Regions from separate parts of the Homo sapiens genome. Here region 2 is linked to region 1. Evidence: fine-mapped expression QTL. A gene starts in region 1. The other region holds a variant in brackets. All regions are shown on one strand. Distances are from middle to middle.

The links.
Region 2: its variant is fine-mapped to the expression of CCDC86 in whole blood (TOPMed, PIP 0.96).

The regions. Positions count from the first base shown.
Region 1 is chr11:60,838,471-60,846,798 of GRCh38, forward strand. CCDC86 (coiled-coil domain containing 86) reads left to right here and starts at 3,643. Exons shown (of 4, transcript NM_024098.4): 1 at 3,643-4,412. The coding sequence starts at 3,655. It overlaps CCDC86-AS1 (CCDC86 antisense RNA 1), which reads right to left. Exons shown (of 2, transcript NR_182293.1): 2 at 3,336-3,510. RefSeq lists enhancers at 2,733-3,932, 3,839-4,068.
Region 2 is chr11:60,858,764-60,867,091 of GRCh38, forward strand. No RefSeq gene overlaps it. Among named protein-coding and RNA genes, the nearest start is that of ZP1, 4.6 kb to the right of the region's middle. RefSeq lists silencers at 5,373-5,667, 5,514-5,731. The variant C/T (reference allele first, on the strand shown) is at 4,160.

The DNA of each region.
Region 1 (8,328 bases):
GTCTCCTCTGGGCCTCTGCACACCATGTATAATGACAATGACAAACTGAGCTCAGGTGGGAGTAGGGGGTTCTGGGCCAGAGCCCACCTGATGCTGAGGTTGACAAAGTGTCTCCAAGTGTCTGGGGGCCACCCAAAGGCCTCCTCTAAAACACATCTCCCTCTCTCTGGTGAAAACCTGAGATCACCCTCTGAAGTATTTCAGGCAAGGCTAGGTGTTGAACAGAAAGCCATGGGGACCCAGGTCTCTGACATCTGGGGACTGTCAGACCCTCTCAACTGTAGCACCCCTTAGCTGGGGGGAGGTCAATGACTCAGAGGAGAACACCTGATCCTATCTTCCATCCATCTGCCAGCGCTTGGTTTCCATCAGTCAGCAGATCTCAGGTTACATAAATAAACTGGTATTGCTGATTCGGCACATTCTGCACGATGGTGTGTGCCAGGTGGTACCCACCTCCTCCCAGCACACAGACCAGAATCAGTGTGACGAATAGGTGAGCAAGGCCCATGTGGGGGCAGCTGCAAGGCAGCTAAGCATGCCACCTCTGGAACCACAATCCTGGCTCCTGAATGTGCCGCTGTCTGATTTTGGGCAAGCACCTTAGCCTTCCCATGCCTGATTCCTTGCCTGGATAACAGGCAGATTTACTGTTAAGAGTTGTGGCTCTGGAATCAGACAGTCTAGGTGTGGATCTTGCCTCTACCACTTATTTGCTGTGTGACCTTTACAAGTGTCTCAGCCTCTCTGTGCCTCAGTCTTTTTTTTTTTTTTTTTTTGAGACAGAGTCTTGCTCTGCCACCCAGGTTGCTGTGCAGTGGCACGATCTTGGTTCACTGCAACCTCTACCTCCCAGGTTCAAGCAATTCCCCTGCCTCAGCCTCCTGAGTAGCTGGGACTCGAGGCGCCTGCCACCACACCCAGCTAATTTTTGTACTTTTAGTAGAGATGGGGTTTCATCATGTTGGCCAGGCTGGTCTTGAACTCCTGGCCTCCAGTGATCCGCCCACCTTGGCCTCCCAAAGTACTGGGATTACTACAGGTGTGAGCCAGCGCACCCAGCCTCTCAGTTTCTTTATCTGTAAACTGGGAGTAATAACAACTGCACCTGCCTCACAGGATTGTTGGGAGAAGCATTAAGAAATGGATTTGTACTTGGAGAGTACTTGAAACAATGCCTGGACCAATCATTGCTGGCACCAATGTTTCAGGCTAGGTTTCTGCAGAAGCCAACTCTGAGAAGAGGATTAAGTACAATATTTGTCTGCTCTGAGAATGACCTCAGCAAGCATCTATAAGAAAGTGGGGAAGTGAGACAGGGATGAAGCCAAAAGAGGGTCCATGAGCAGATTACCTTTGTGGGCAATGCAAGTTCAATCCTGTTGGTGGCCTCTGGGGGCTACAGAGAAGCCCCTCAGTATCCTACCACCTAAAGGCAAGAAAGCTGTGATGTAGAAAGCTGCAATAAAAGCAAAGGAGTGGCCAGGCACAGTGGCTCACGCCTGTAATCCCAACACTTCAGGAGGCCGAGGCAGGAGGATCACTTGAGCCCAGGAGTTCAAGACCAGCCTGAGCAACACAGGGAGACCCCGTTTCTACAAAAAAAAAAAAATAGCCAGGCATGGTGGCATGAGCCTGTGGTGCCAGCTACTCAGGTGGGAGGATCCCTGGGGCCTGGGAGGTCAAGGCTGCAGTGAGCTGTGATTGTGCCACTGCACTCCAGCCTGGACAACAGAGCAAGACCCTGTCTCAAAAATAATAATAATTTTTAAAAGAAAGCAAAGGAGTGTAAGGAGACAGGGTCCCAACAGCGATCGCCACACCAGGCGCTTCTGAAAATTTCAGGAGTCTCCTCTGGGCCTCTGCACACCATGTATAATGACAATGACAAACTGAGCTCATGTGGGAGTAGGGGGTTCTGGGCCAGAGCCCATCTGATGCTGAGGTTGACAAAGTGCCTCCAAATGTCTGGGGGCCACCCAAAGGCCTCCTCTAAAACACATCTCCCTCTCTCTGGTGAAAACCTGAGATCACCCTCTGAAGTATTTCAGGCTAGACTAGGATATGATCCAATCGGCACTGGAGAGTGATCCCTCCAGCTGGGGACAAGAGCTTAGGAGGCAGGGCAAGCCAAGGGGGACTGGAGCAGGGCAGAGGGGCATACAGTCTCCTCCAGCACTCTGGCAACACCTGCCGGGCTTGGTTCTGAGTGTCAGATCATTGGGGTCTCCAGGCAGGGGCAGGGCATTTAAGGAACTGAATGGAACTCACTCCTCTGACAGTTGGGGGGTGGAAGAGCTGGGCAAGGAGGTGTCCCGGCTGCTTCTGCTGTGGACAGCTGCATGGCCGGAGAGGAGCAGTGAGGCAGGCAAAGCCCCCCTGCAGGGGTCTCCTTGACTCAGGAACATGAGGAAGATGAGGACACTCTGATCCCTGATATTCTTGGACAATTTCCCAGGCCCTCTCACAAGCCCGCAGCTGGAGAAACAATGGTTTCTAAAAGAAACCACTGGAATGTCAGACGGGGCCCTGGGACCTTTAATGGCCAACCCCAGGCAGTTCCAAGAATTACACAACTGGGCCACTTCCAAGATGTTCTTCCTAAGAAGCATGCTGTAAGTAAATCAAAGCCCCACTCCTAGGTCTCACACGAAAGTCTCCACAGCCCCACATTCCCCAACCCCACATCCCGAGAGTCTTCTCTAGGCCTTGGGAGGTCCAGAAGTCAACACCTGCTCACTGGTGAGGTCCCAAAGTGCTTAGTAAGCAAAGTACATTTACAGGTGAATAGCAAGGGAAGGGAGGGGAGGCGAAGCAGGTTCACACACGAGCAAAAACCACTGTCTGGGCTGAAAGGAAGATCGGAGATGATCCAACCCGTTTCTAGAACTGGGGTAGAAGAAGAGGGACGTGGGAGGATATGCAGCTGGTCGAGGGCCCAGGTGAGCCACAGGACAAAGGTGGTGCATCTTATTGGTACCTCAACTTCCCTCACAAACGTTGAAAACGCTGAAAAGGGAGGGAGAGCTATGGATTATATACGGAAGCACAGGACGGAAGAATCAAGAGTGTGAACAATTAACACAGAAAAGACCGATCTTCCACCTCCAGGACCCCCAGGTAGCAGTCCCTCAGGTAGGTGGGAGGAGGACTCTGACAGGATCATTTGGGATGCACGAAGCTAGTGCAAAATGACCCCTATTACAAATGAGAAAACAGGCCCAAGGAGGGCAGGACTCTGCCCAACTGCACCGGAGTTGGCTGCAAAACATCCACTGGGCCTTGCCTATGGGCTCCTCGGACCTTTTTTCGACTCTGTTCTCTCCCTGAAATGGGTCCTCCCACTTTCCCTTTTCTACTTGCTCGCTCTTCTTTCCCCAGGAAACTTTGCAAGAAAGGCAAAAGCGAATCCCAGGAAAAAGACTGGCTCATCAATCACATGTTGACTGCGCTCGCGCGAATTGCGCATGCGCATGCTGAGCCCCACTCTCCCCAACCCCGGTCCCGCCTCTCCACCCCTCACCAACATGGCCGCCTCAGCAACAGCCCCCCTCCTGTGCGTCACGGACGCGGCGACTCCTGACGTCATAGGAAGGCGCCGGTTTCGGCGGGGGCTGCACGTGCGCAGGGGTGTGGAAACTTACCGGCTGAGCCATGGATACACCGTTAAGGCGCAGCCGACGGCTGGGAGGCCTAAGGCCCGAATCCCCCGAGAGCCTCACCTCAGTTTCGCGGACGAGACGGGCCCTTGTGGAGTTCGAGTCGAACCCAGAAGAAACGAGGGAGCCCGGGTCTCCTCCGAGTGTGCAGCGGGCTGGCCTGGGGTCCCCCGAAAGGCCGCCGAAGACAAGCCCAGGATCACCCCGTCTGCAGCAGGGTGCAGGCTTGGAGTCACCCCAAGGGCAGCCAGAGCCAGGCGCAGCGTCCCCCCAGCGTCAGCAAGACCTACACCTGGAGTCGCCTCAAAGACAGCCAGAGTACAGTCCTGAATCCCCACGATGTCAGCCGAAGCCAAGTGAGGAGGCACCAAAGTGTTCTCAGGACCAGGGAGTACTGGCCTCGGAGTTGGCCCAGAATAAGGAGGAGCTGACCCCGGGGGCCCCCCAGCATCAGCTACCGCCGGTCCCAGGATCACCAGAGCCTTACCCCGGTCAGCAAGCTCCCGGTCCGGAGCCCTCTCAGCCACTACTGGAGCTGACACCCAGGGCACCTGGCTCCCCCCGGGGTCAGCATGAGCCGAGCAAGCCACCTCCAGCTGGGGAGACGGTGACAGGCGGCTTCGGGGCAAAGAAGCGAAAAGGTTCTTCATCCCAGGCCCCAGCGTCCAAGAAGTTGAATAAAGAGGAGCTTCCTGTAATCCCGAAGGGGAAGCCCAAATCGGGGCGAGTGTGGAAGGACCGCTCCAAGAAAAGGTGAAGTGGGGGACAGCATGGACAGGGGTGGCGTTCTCTATGGTGTTGGGACCCCGCCTTTGCCCTGCTGCAGCCTGGAGAATAGCCCCAGGGTTAGAGAGAGCTCACGTTAGTGGGGATGTTAGCAAACAGGTAATTACAATCAGAATGTGGTAAAATGCCCTGGGATCCCGGAGAGGGTGGGGCCAGGCCCTCAAAGATCAATTTCTCTGATGCCTTTCCTCCTCAGGGTCCCTATGGGCCTCTCCTGTAGCACCTCAGGTCTGTATTCGTTCAACAGACATTTACCGTTGTCTGCCCTCTCTAGTGAGAGAAGCAGAAGCAAGTAAACCAGCCATTACTTGATCAAAGCAGTGAGGTCTTCATCCAATATAGTCTATTACAGTTATTTGCCTTTAAGATAAAAAGTATTACTGAGCACTGATTATATAAGGATTTACCAGTCAACAGCCTTAATAAGGATTTACCAGTCAACAGCCTTTCAAACATGGAACAGCATGTGTCATCACGCTTAATCTGCACGTCAGCCCTGTGAAGCAGGCGGTGTTATTATTCCTGTTTTTTGTGTGAGGAAACCAAGGCTAAATGAGTGGTAGGCACAGGACCTGAGCACAGATCTGATTCCGAAGCCTGTGTGCAAAAAACCCCTTTACCCAATCCCTGTAGATCCACCTTGAATTGGATTGCGACCTTCTTAAGGGGCAGGCACGAGATCTTTCTTGTCTTTCTGTGCCAAGGGCATAGTAAATGCCCAATGAATGCTTATTTAATGAAGGAACGAAGTAGCTCATCTGAAGAAGGAAGAGTGTAGGCTGCCATGAAGGAGAGGTGTGGGATTCAGTTCCAATTCGAGCTAATGGGAACCACAGGGGAGAGTCAGGGATGTATGCCTGTGAGGGACCATGAGGAAGGAGGGTGTTTTTAAGGAAGAAGCTGACTCTGTGCCAGGCTTCGTGCTAGGCCCTTTTCTTGTATCCTTAAAACCCTAGGCTGTGGATATTATCCCCCCACCCCTGATGAAACAGAAGAAACTGAGGCTTACAGAGTAATTTACTGCAAGTCTCCCATGGGAGAGACTTTGAGGCTAGAGTGACTGTAACTGTTGGAGAAGTGGATGATGGCACTACCCCTCTGCCCTGTCCCAGGGGGTCACAGGAGAATGGCAGGGCCGTTGATGGCCATGTGGAACTGGAGGAGGCTGGTTCAGGTGGGAAGAGGGTGATGAGCAAGTTGAGCGGGTGAAGCTTGGGGTCCTGGTACTCACGCTGCAGGTGGGGAGATGGGCTTGCTGAGCTAGAGGGGGCTGGGCCCATGCAGAGGTGGGGAGAAGGGAGGGGCCCACACAAGACACAGGATCAGCAGCTGGAGCAGAGTAGGAGGCCACAGATCACTTGACCAAGAAGTCTGGAGAGAGGGTGTGTGGTTCCAGCTCCCTGCCCAACTGCAGACCCGTCCTGACTCACTGTTGCTCACTCAGAGCATGCACTCCAGACTCCTTAATGAGGCCGGCAGGCCCACCCTCCTCTCCCCTCCATCACTAGAGCTTCCACACTGTTGTCCCCTCCATGTTCCTCCCATGTGTGACGCTCCCTCCTTCCTCAGCGCCTTCACACGTGCTGTTCCCACTGTTTGAAAGGCTCTTTCCCTGGCCAGTCCCCCACTCATGTTTCAGGGCTCAGTTCAAATGTCACCTCCTCTGAAAAGCCTCTCTGGCTTATCCAACTAGGGTTAAGTCCCCATGCTTTATGTTATCATTGTGTGCTGTACTTCTCTTTTGTAACACCTCCATTTGCACAAATGCTTATTTATTTGTGATTCTTATTGACTGCCTGTTTTCCTTTAAACCGGAGGCTCCGTGAGAGTGTAAGAGTGGGGACTTACCTATCATGACTAGATGCCCCAGAGCCCAGTGCAGGGTAGGGCACTAAGCTGAACAAGTGGATGAATTGAGGACAGAAGGTAGTTCATTCATTCATCAACCAGTTGCTCAGATCTTGGGTAAACATGTCTGTGAACAAAAAGTCTCTGCTCTCCTGAAGCAAACATTCTAAATGTGGGAAACAGATAAAGAACAAGTACACACATGATATGTCAGTAATAAAGACTTCAAAGAAAAATAAACCAGGATGGGGACCAGAGAATAACAGGGAGGGCAGGGTATTGCCACAGTGCTCAGAGATGGCCTTGCAGATAAACAGGTCTGAGCAGAGGGAGCCGGGCAGAGATCTGGGGAAACAGTATCCAGGCAACAGGAAAGGGATGTTCAGAGGTATTGAGGCGGGAGCAAGCTCCCGTTTGAGAGGCTTTCCAGAGGTCTCGCTGCTGGAATGAGGGGGAGAAGGGGAACAGTAGGAGATGAGGTCAGAGAGACAGCAGGACCTGGTGACCCTTACAGGGACTCCCGGCTTTCCTGAGTGAGCTTGGGAGCCATGGAAGGGTGTCAAGCAAAGGAATGAAATGACCTGACTTGTGAGATCAGCCTGGCTACTGAACACAGACATAGGCGGGCAGGGGTGAAGGCAGGAAAACCCACAAGGAGGCTGTCTCAAGAGAACTAAAACAGCTTCCGAAGCTGCAGGCAAGTCTGTGGCGAGGGGCCCAGCAGGGCCACTGAATGGATGTTTGGGATCTTTGAGGGAGCAGCTTCGGTGGGTAGTAAGTGAGCCTGGAGATGGGTGGGAAGCAGCTCCTGCTGCAGGGAGGAAGACAGCCGCAGCTGGGAAAGTGTATGTGGTGAGGGAGACCTGGCTGCAGCCCTGTCTTCGTGCTCATGCCAAACGCCACTTTCTCCATAGTGCCCTTGGGCATGCTGTCTGCCTTCTCTGAGGAGTAGCATTTATGGAGCACCTATTACGTGTGTGTGTCGATTAAATCTCCCACCACCCTTTGGGTTAGGAATGATTCTCATCTCCACTGGACAGGATGCTGAGACTTAGAGAGGCTACCTTGCTCCAGGTCACCCAGGTTGGACTTGGAACCCAGGCCTGAGTTTCCTCAATACCCAGGTAGAACCAATGGTCTGGAACTGCCCTGCCTCAGTACCTTAGCCGCCAGCCACATGTGGCTATGTACATTTAAATTAATTAAAATTAAATAAAATTTAAGATTCAGTTTCTCTATCAACACCAACCACATTTCTAGCGCTCAGCAGCCACCCATGACTAGTGGCTACCTTATTGGACAGTGTCAATGTGGAATGTTTCCACCATCACAGAACGTTCTGTTTGACAGCCCTGCTCTACACAGATGCAGCACTGTGTCTTGTGGTTCTGTGTGTCTCTAGGCTCCCAACACCTTGTCCCTTCAGGGTTCTCGTACCCCAGCTTGGGAAGCCCAGCTTTACAGTTATGGGGGAAGTCCATGTGGCACCCCATTCTTAGTGCTTAGGAGGCCAGGCCTTCAGTGGCAAGGCCTTGGGAAGGGGAGAAGGAAATCAGGGAGCTGGGGCCAGAAGTCGGCAGGGCCAAGGGACACCAAAATGGGCCTTGAATCTTTAAAAGAGAAAGACCTAATTTCAGCATGTGGAGGCCACCGAGAGACTTCTTTGCATTTTGTTTTTACTTTTTTTGAATGGAAATTTTCAAGCATACAAAGAAAGAGCAAAGCTCTCAAGTCCCCATTATCAGCATCAACACAGCTCAGCATTTTACTAGTGTAGCTTCATCTTTGATACTTGGCTTTTTTTTCTTTTTTTCTTTTTTTTTGTTTTGAGACGGAGTTTCATTCTTGTTGCCCAGGCCAGAGTGCAATGGAGCAATCTCGGCTCACCGCAACCTCCGCCTCCTGGGTTCAAGCGATTCTCCTGCCTCAGCCTCCCAAGTAGCTGGGATTACAGGTGTGTGCCACCACACCCAGCTAATTTTGTATTTTTAGTAGAGACAGGGTTTCTCCATGTTGGTCAAGCTGGTCTCGAACT
Region 2 (8,328 bases), 20 kb after region 1:
TGGGTTTTTTATGTTCCTTTCTGGCCACTTTAAAGAAGTCAGTCAAACAGGAAGTGAGATGCAGGGCAGGAAGCAGGGTGAGGCCTGCCCTGGGATCCTCCAGCCCCTTGCTCGGAGGCCCTCGAGCTACCCACACCCAGTAGAGGAGCAGCATGGCAGGGCCCCAAATGATACCTTGGGGAGGCCCAGGTTGAGTTCCCTGGTGCCACCATCACCCACAGGACTCCTCGCATGGCCAACAAGCCCCTCGGTGATCCAGTCCCACCCAAGCCTCCCCTGGCATTGCTGCCACTCCCTAGTGGCATCCTGTCATCAGCCAGCACTCACCACTGTCCCCTCCTGTCCTGTGCACACCAGGCTTTTTCTGTACACACCAGGCTGTTTCTGTGCCCACCAGGCTGTTTCTGTGCCCTGGCTTATGCTGTTTGTGCTCTGCTCTGGAATGCCTTTTCTTCCCTTGGCCTCTCAGTGAACTCCTATTCATCCTTCAAAACCCTGGTTAGAGGTTGCCTCCTCTGGGAAGCCTTTGCTGATTCTCTCAGACCCACTTGCTGTCCCTCCTCTCCCACATCTCCACTTCACTTGACCTGCAGCCCCCCTGTCTTCCCTGGTAACTCTTGTTCACACAACTGTTCACCACCCTCATGAGCCACCTGAAGACAGAGACTTATTCCTGTTTTATCTTCTCACCTCCAAAGGCAAGCAGAGGGCCTGACACATGAGAGGGGTCCCAACATATATTTGCTGAACAGAATGAATCTCTAAAATTGGCTTCCCTGTGCAGACCTCAAAGGACCCCAGTCCCTTGTGGTGACCCATTCTGAGACCTTTACTTTTTTTTTTTTTTTTTTTTTTTTGAGACTGAGTCTCGCTCTGTTGCACAGGCTGGAGTGCAGTGGCCCTATCTTGGCTCACTGCAACCTCCGCCTCCCGGGTTGAAGCGACTCTCTTGCCTCAGCCTCCCAAGTAGCTGGGACTGCAGGCGTGCGCCACCGCACCCGGCTAATTTTTGTATTTTTAGTAGAGAAGGGGTTTCACCATGTTAGCCTGGCTGGTCTCAAACTCCTGACATCAGGTGATCTGCCTGCCTCAGCCTCCCAAAGTCCTGGGATTACAGGCCTGAGCCACTGTGTCCGGCCCCATTCTGGAACCTTTCTTACCCATGGTCTGGTGCAATTCTCCATGGCTCTGTCTTCACCTGCAGTGGGTACAACCTTGGGGACTGATCGCTTTATAGTAGGAAGGAAGACAAGAAGGCAGAGCAGGCAGAGGCAGCCCTGGCCTGGGCTCAGGCCCACACATGTGCCAGGCAATCGTCGCAGAAACAACAGTGGTGTATTTGTTTCCTCGGGCTGTCAGAACAAACTACCACAAACGTGGCAGCTTTAAACAACAGAGACTTATTCTCTTACAGTCTGGAAGCCAGAGTCTGTAATCAGATGCCAGCACTTCCTCCGAAAGCTCTAGAAAAGGAGACTTTTTGGCCCCTCCAGCTTCTGGTGGCTCCAGGCGTCCCTTGGCTTAGGGCTGCATCACTGCAATCTCTACCTCCTCTTTACCTGGCCTTCCCCCTCCCTCTTTTCATGTGTCTCTCACAGAGTACTGGTCACTGGACTTAGGGCTCATCTGGATCATCCAGGGTGCTCTCATCTTGAGATTCTTAAATTGATTACATCTGCAAAGTCCTCTTATCCAAATAAGGCCACATTCACAGGTTCCAGGGGTTAGGTTGTGGACATGTCTTTTGAGGGCCACCATTCAACACAGTGAAAGCAATAATAGCTTCTGGGTACGGTGGCTCATGCCTGCAATCCCAGCACTTCGGGAGGATGAGGCGGACAGATCACTTGAGGTCAGGAGTTCGAGACCAGCCTGGCCAACAGGCAAAACCCCATCTCTACTAAAAATACAAAAATTAGCCAGGTGTGATGGTGCACGCCTGTAATACCAGCTATTCAGGAGGCTGAGGCAGGAGAATCGCTTGAACCCAGGAGGCAGAGGTTATGGTGAGCCGAGATCCTGCCACTCCACTCCAGCCTGGGTGACAGAGCGAGACGCCATCTCAAAAAAAAAAAAAAAAAAAAAATGAAAACAGTAATAGCTAACACTTATGGGGCACTCACTATGTGCCAGCGTAAGGCTGAAACTTGCTCATGGATGAGCTCATCAAATATTCACGCACCCCTCTGAGTTAGGTACCACTATCATCGTCACTCACCAAGGGGAAAACTGAGGCTCAGAGAGCTTAAGCAACCCTACCAAGCCTGCTCAGCTGGGGAGCAGAGGAGCTGGAGTTCAGAGCCATGTGGTCCAGCAGCAGAGCCCAGCTCTTCGCAGCTGATGAGATTCTCTGAGGTTCTTTGTTCCCTCAGGGGAAGCAGGGCTGCCTGTCTTCAGTTAAATGCGCTCCCACTGGCCTTCTGGGAGCATCTCTGCGGTGAGCACGGTCCATACATACACACACAGCTGGCGCTGCTCTTGGGTTACTCTGCAGGCCCCGGAGTGAGGCAGCCTGCTTCCTGCTGGTTTCCTGGCATGCATGGATCCCCTGAAAGGGGATTTTGTCTTTCCAGCCTAGAGAGGCTCCATCCTCCTCCAGTGCCTTCCCTAGGCTCTATTCACAGAGGAGACAGGGCAAGCAACTGATACTTACACGGCGCCCCACTTAGGTGGACTGTATTCTTAGTTCCATTTTATAGATTAAGAAACTCAAGTTCCAACTGGGTGCGGTGGCTCACGCCTGTAATCCCAGCACTTTGGGAGGCTGAGGCGGGCGGATCGCAAGGTCAGGAGATCGAGACCATCCTGGCTAACACGGTGAAACCCCGTCTCTACTAAAAATATAAAAAATTAGCCGGGCATGGTGGCCAGCGCCTGCAGTCCCAGCTACTCGGGAGGCTAAGGCTGGAGAATGGTGTGAACCGGGAGGCGGAGCTTGCAGTGAGCCGAGATCGCGCCACTGCACTCCAGCCTGGGCGACAGAGTGAGACTCTGTCTCAAAACAAAACAAAAAAAAAAAAAGAAAGAAAAGAAACTGAAGTTCCATTAAAAAAAAATTCATAGGTTAAAAACAGAAAGAAAGAAATGAACAAACAGGTTTACAAACAGGCCAAGTGGCCAGGTGTGGAGGCTCATGCCTGTAATCCCAGCACTTTGGGAGACAGAGGCGGGCAGATTGCTTGAGCCCAGGAGTTTGAGACCAGCCTGGGCAATATAGCAAGACCCCATCTCTAAAAAAAAACCCAAAAACCAGAAGCCAAGTGGATAAAGCCAAGATTCCAAGTCAAGTCACCTCCATCTGACCCTCTCTCTTTATCAATAAAAATAATCGTGGTTGTAATGGCTATCGTGTTCAAATGATGACCATGTGCAGACCCTGTTCTGCCTGCTTCACATGGATTATCTCATTTAATCCTCAGAGCAACCCTACAATTTAGGTGCTATTATAACCCCATTTTATAGATGAGGAAAGCAAGTCACAGAGCAGGGAAGGGACTTTTCCAAGGTCTCCAGTGGGTGAGCAGAGGAGCTGGGATCCTCCCAGGCTGATAATTCTTGGTGTCCATGAGTCTTTGCAAGAACGTAGAGTCGTAACCGAGGGCTCAGGGCGCTCGTGCGCGCTCTCTCTCTCTCTTGGATACTCTGGTACCCTTTTCCCAAAGGTGTTCTGCCCTTGGCCCTGAGGAAGCCCCCCTTCTCTTTCCCTGCCCATTTCCAGCACCTTGGGAGACGTACTTTCCCCATGGGTCCATGACCAGTGGGGAAACACCTCTCCGTGTCTTATGTAATTGCATCCCCACCATAATCATTCTCATCCTTACTCTCCAGATAGAGGAAAAAAGCCGGTAAGTGACTTCCCAGGGCCCTTGTGCTCATAAACAGTGAGCACCAGGCAAAATCCAGGCCTCTCAAAGACTCCAGCTGATTCTCTCTCTGGCCCCTAAAAGCCCCCGTTAGGAAAAGTTCTCTCTTATGATAGCAAATAAATGCAGAAGGAAGGGTAGAGTTAGAGAACCACCACCCACTTGGCAACCACACTAGCCAGTGAACATTTGAAGAGGAGCAGGATTGATTACATAGTCTCAAAGTATCTCCCTGTAAGATACTCATGAATTACAAAGAGAAACATCATTACTTTATGGTGGAGAAACCTGGCAGA[C/T]ACCACCTTATCCAAGTGATCAAAGTCACATCAGCAATAACAGGACAAGCCAGCGGGGTGTGCCTCGAGATACTGAGAAGGACACAACATCACTTCTGTACAAGCTGAATTGTATCCCCCCAAAATTCATATGCGAAATCCCTAACCCTCCACCCCCATCCCTCAGAATGTGACTGTATTTGGAGATAGAGCTTTTAAAGATGTGATTTAAGATTGAGCCCCTTAAGGTGGCCCTAATCCAATCTGACTGGTGTCCTTAGAAGAAGAGGAAATTTGTTTTTGTTTTTTGGGATGGAGTTTCACTCTGTCTTCCAGACTGGAGTGCAGTGGTGCCGTCTTGGCTCCCTGCAACCTCCACCTCCCAGGTTCAAGTGATTCTCCCACCTCAGCCTCCTGAGGAGCTGGGATTGCAGGTGTGCACCACCACACCCAACTAATTAGTTTGTATTTTTAGTAGAGATGGGGTTTCACCATGTTGGCCAGGCTGGTCTCAAACTCCTGACCTCAAGTGATCTGCCCACCTCGGCCTCCCAAAGTGCTAGGATTACAGGCGTGAGCCACCGTGCCAGCCAGAAGAAGAGGGAATTTGACCATTCAAAGAGACACCAAGGACGCACCAGCACAGGGGAAAGACCACGTGAGGACTCAGTGAGAAGACGGTTGTCTGCAGGCCAAAGAGAGAGGCCTCAGGAGCAACCAGACCTGCCACCACTTTGACCTAGCACATCCAGGCTCCAGAGCTGTGAGAAAAAGACTTATTTAAGCCACTCAGTCTGTATTTTGTTACAGCAGCCAAACGGACTAATACAAGGCCAAGATGCATCAACTAAATCTAATGTAACCAGGAGAAAACACCAGACAAACCCAAACTGAGGGCCATTCTGCAAAATCATCCGGCTGTACTAAAAAATGTCAAGGGTATGAAAGACAAAAGAAGATAGAAGGGCGGTCCCAGATCAGAGGAGGCCAAGAGGCACGCCAGCGAGACTCTGAGCCTGGATTGGATCCTGCAGACTCCCAAAACCACTGTACTCCTTTGCCATGAAAGTCACAGTTAGGACAGTCGGCAGATGTTGAGTAATTGTCAGAGCAGGAGCACCGTCATCTCGGACAAATACTGCCACTTTAAGCTCCAGCTCCCTTTCTAGCCTCATGCATTTCAAGGAAATCACTTCTCTTCTAACTACAACAGCCAGAAAGAGCAGACAGTAAAATACAGATAAGACAGCTCCGGCACAGAGCGGGGTGGAGGGAAGGTCTCTTTGGTAACTGCCAAACTTCACCCTCACACAATGAGCCCCAGTAAAACAGTGGGCCTTAATAAGCACATTCCTTTTCCTTCAGGGGCACTAAGATAGGGAAGCTAAAAGCAGACTCTGGGGATATGCCTGTAGCTGCAGAAAGATATATGGGAACAGACACACAACTCTCCCTCCCAGATACGCACAGCAAAGAGACACAGGAGCAGTCCAAGCCTCTGATAAACTCCCCCGCCCTGAATCCTTAACTCTTAATCTGTAAGAGAGTGGGGCTCTGACCTAACTCGGCCAGCCGCCCCTCTCAGGTTTACTCAACATAAACCTGTCCCTGTTGCCTGTTGAACCGCCCTTTCATGTTGCTTTCCTCTTTATTTCTTACAATAATGTCTGCAGATTAGATCGTTGTGTTTATACCATTGTTGGTTTCCTGATTTTGATCATTTGACTGTAGGGGTGATTTGTTTTTTTAGGAAATGTATACTGAAGCAATTAGAGGTAAAGGGGAATCTGTCATTTCTGCAACTGACTCTTGAATGATATGGAAGAATGTGTGCGTGTGTGCGTGTGCGTGCGTGTATGTCTGCACACATGCAGAGAGAGAAAGCGGGAGCTACAGCAAATGTAAAAAGTGAACAGTGAACATCTGAGGAATCTGGAGGAGGCTATATGGAAATTCTGCAAATCTGAAATAATTTCAAAATTAAAAGTTTAAAACTTCCACATCGTCCCTCAGGGAAAATCCACCCCACTCCCCGCTCCTGCCTGGCTCCTCTCCTTCCCCTCCTAGTCCTTCCCTCGCCAGCACCCTCAGCCTGCCTGGAGTCCTTGTCCTGGACCTTTGTGTGACCTGCTTCCTCCCTCCTCCTCCAGCTCTGCTCTCCCCAGATCCCCATTGCACCATCCCTGTCCTCCCCGCCTCCTCCCACCTCTGCTCAGGACCCCTTTCCTCCAAAAACACTTCCATGTCGCCCATCCTCGATGCTGTGTTGGGTGCCTCTTCCCACTGTGCCCCCAGAGGGACTCCCACCCCGCCCCACCAAGCTTTCCCAGCTGAGCTTTAATCACAGTAGAAGTGAATTATTGCCAAGCATTAAATCATTACTGCACCTGGTACCCATGACTTGTCTCTTTGTGTCTTCCTATCCACCATGTGGGCAAGGAAAGCATTATCACCCCCAGTTTACAAACAGGAAACCTGAGGCTCAGAATAGATAATGCATCTGAGTCACAGCTAAGAAAGTGGTTGGGGCACCATTAGAACCAACTTTTTTTGTTTAAACTTTTATTTTAGGTTCAGGGTTACTTATGCAGGTTTGTTATATAGGTAAATGCATGTCCAGAGGGATTGTTGTACAGATTATTTCATCACCCAGATACTAAGCCTAGCACCCAATAGTTATTATTTCCACCCTTCTCCTTCCTCTTACCCTCTACCCTTCAATAGGCCCCAGTGTGTGCCATTCCCCTCTATGTGTCCATATGTTGTCATCATTTAGCCTTCAGTTATAAGTGAGAACATGTGGTATTGGTTTCTGTTCCTGCATTTGTTTGCTAAGGATAATATCCTCCAGCTCCATCCATGTTCTTGCAAGAGATGTGATCTCATTCTTTTTTATGGCTGCATAGTATTCCATGGTGTATGTGTACCACATTTTCCTTTTTTTTTTTTCTTTTTCTTTTTTTTTTTTTTTTTTTGAGACAGAGTCTCACTCTGTCGGCCAGGCTGGAGTGCAACAGCACAATCTCGGCTCACTGCAACCTCCGTCTCCTGGGTTCAAGCGATTCTCCTGCCTCAGCCTCCTGAGTAGCTGGGACTACAGGTGCGTGCCACCACACCCAGCTAATTTTTGTATTTTTAGTAGAGACAGGGTTTCACCATGTTAGCCAGGATGGTCTCGATCTCCTGACCTCGTGATCCGCCCGCCTCGGCCTCCCAAAGTGCTGGGATTACAGGCGTGAGCCACCGTGCTCAGCATGTACCAGATTTTCTTTATTGAGTCTACCATTGATGGGCATTTGATTCCATGTCTTGGCTATTGTGAATCATGCTGCACTGAACATATGCACGCAGGTTCAGTGTCTTTATGATAGAACAATTTATATTCCTTTGGATATATACCCAGTAATGCGATTTCTGCATCAAATGATAGTTCTGTTTTCAGCTCTTTGAGGAATCACCACACTCCCACAGTGGTCAAACCAATTTACACCCCCACCAAGAGCGTATAAGCATTCCTTTTTCTCTGCAACCTCACCAGAACCGGGCTCTTAGCTATCAAGCCTCTTGCTCTCCCCTTCCAGCAGCTGCTAATTATAATAGCTGCATTTTCTAATGTTTGCTGAGCTCAAACGCTGCTGGGCCCTAGGCTAATCACTTGCAGGAATTAGTGCCAGGACGTGGGGCTGGTGACAGTCCCTTCCTCAGAGGATGGTCAGGCGGTATAAGGATCTAACACAAGCAAGACCTGGCACTGTAATCATGGCAGACCACAGGCCATTCTTGTTGTTTCCAGCCACTTTTATGTCTTAGAACTGTTCTAGATTTACAGAACTGAGAAGATAGTACAGACAGTTCCCATACACCGCAGGCCCAGTTTACCCCATAACTGATCTTACTTGAGTATGATACATTTATTACAATTAATGAACAAACAAATGTGGACACATTATTATTAACTAAAATCCACTTTCTTCACTTTTACTGCCTTTTTCTGTTCCACGATCCCATCCAGATGCCACATTACATTTAGTTGTCCTTGTTATTTTTTATTAGTCATAGTCATCATCATACTGACCGGCTGAATCCTCAGGAGAGCCCTTGGAGGTGCTACTGGTCTGTTTACTCACCTGCAGTCCCCATTCCGCTGCCAGCTCTGAGGGCTGTGTCTTCCTGGTCTTGCTCTAATGCCC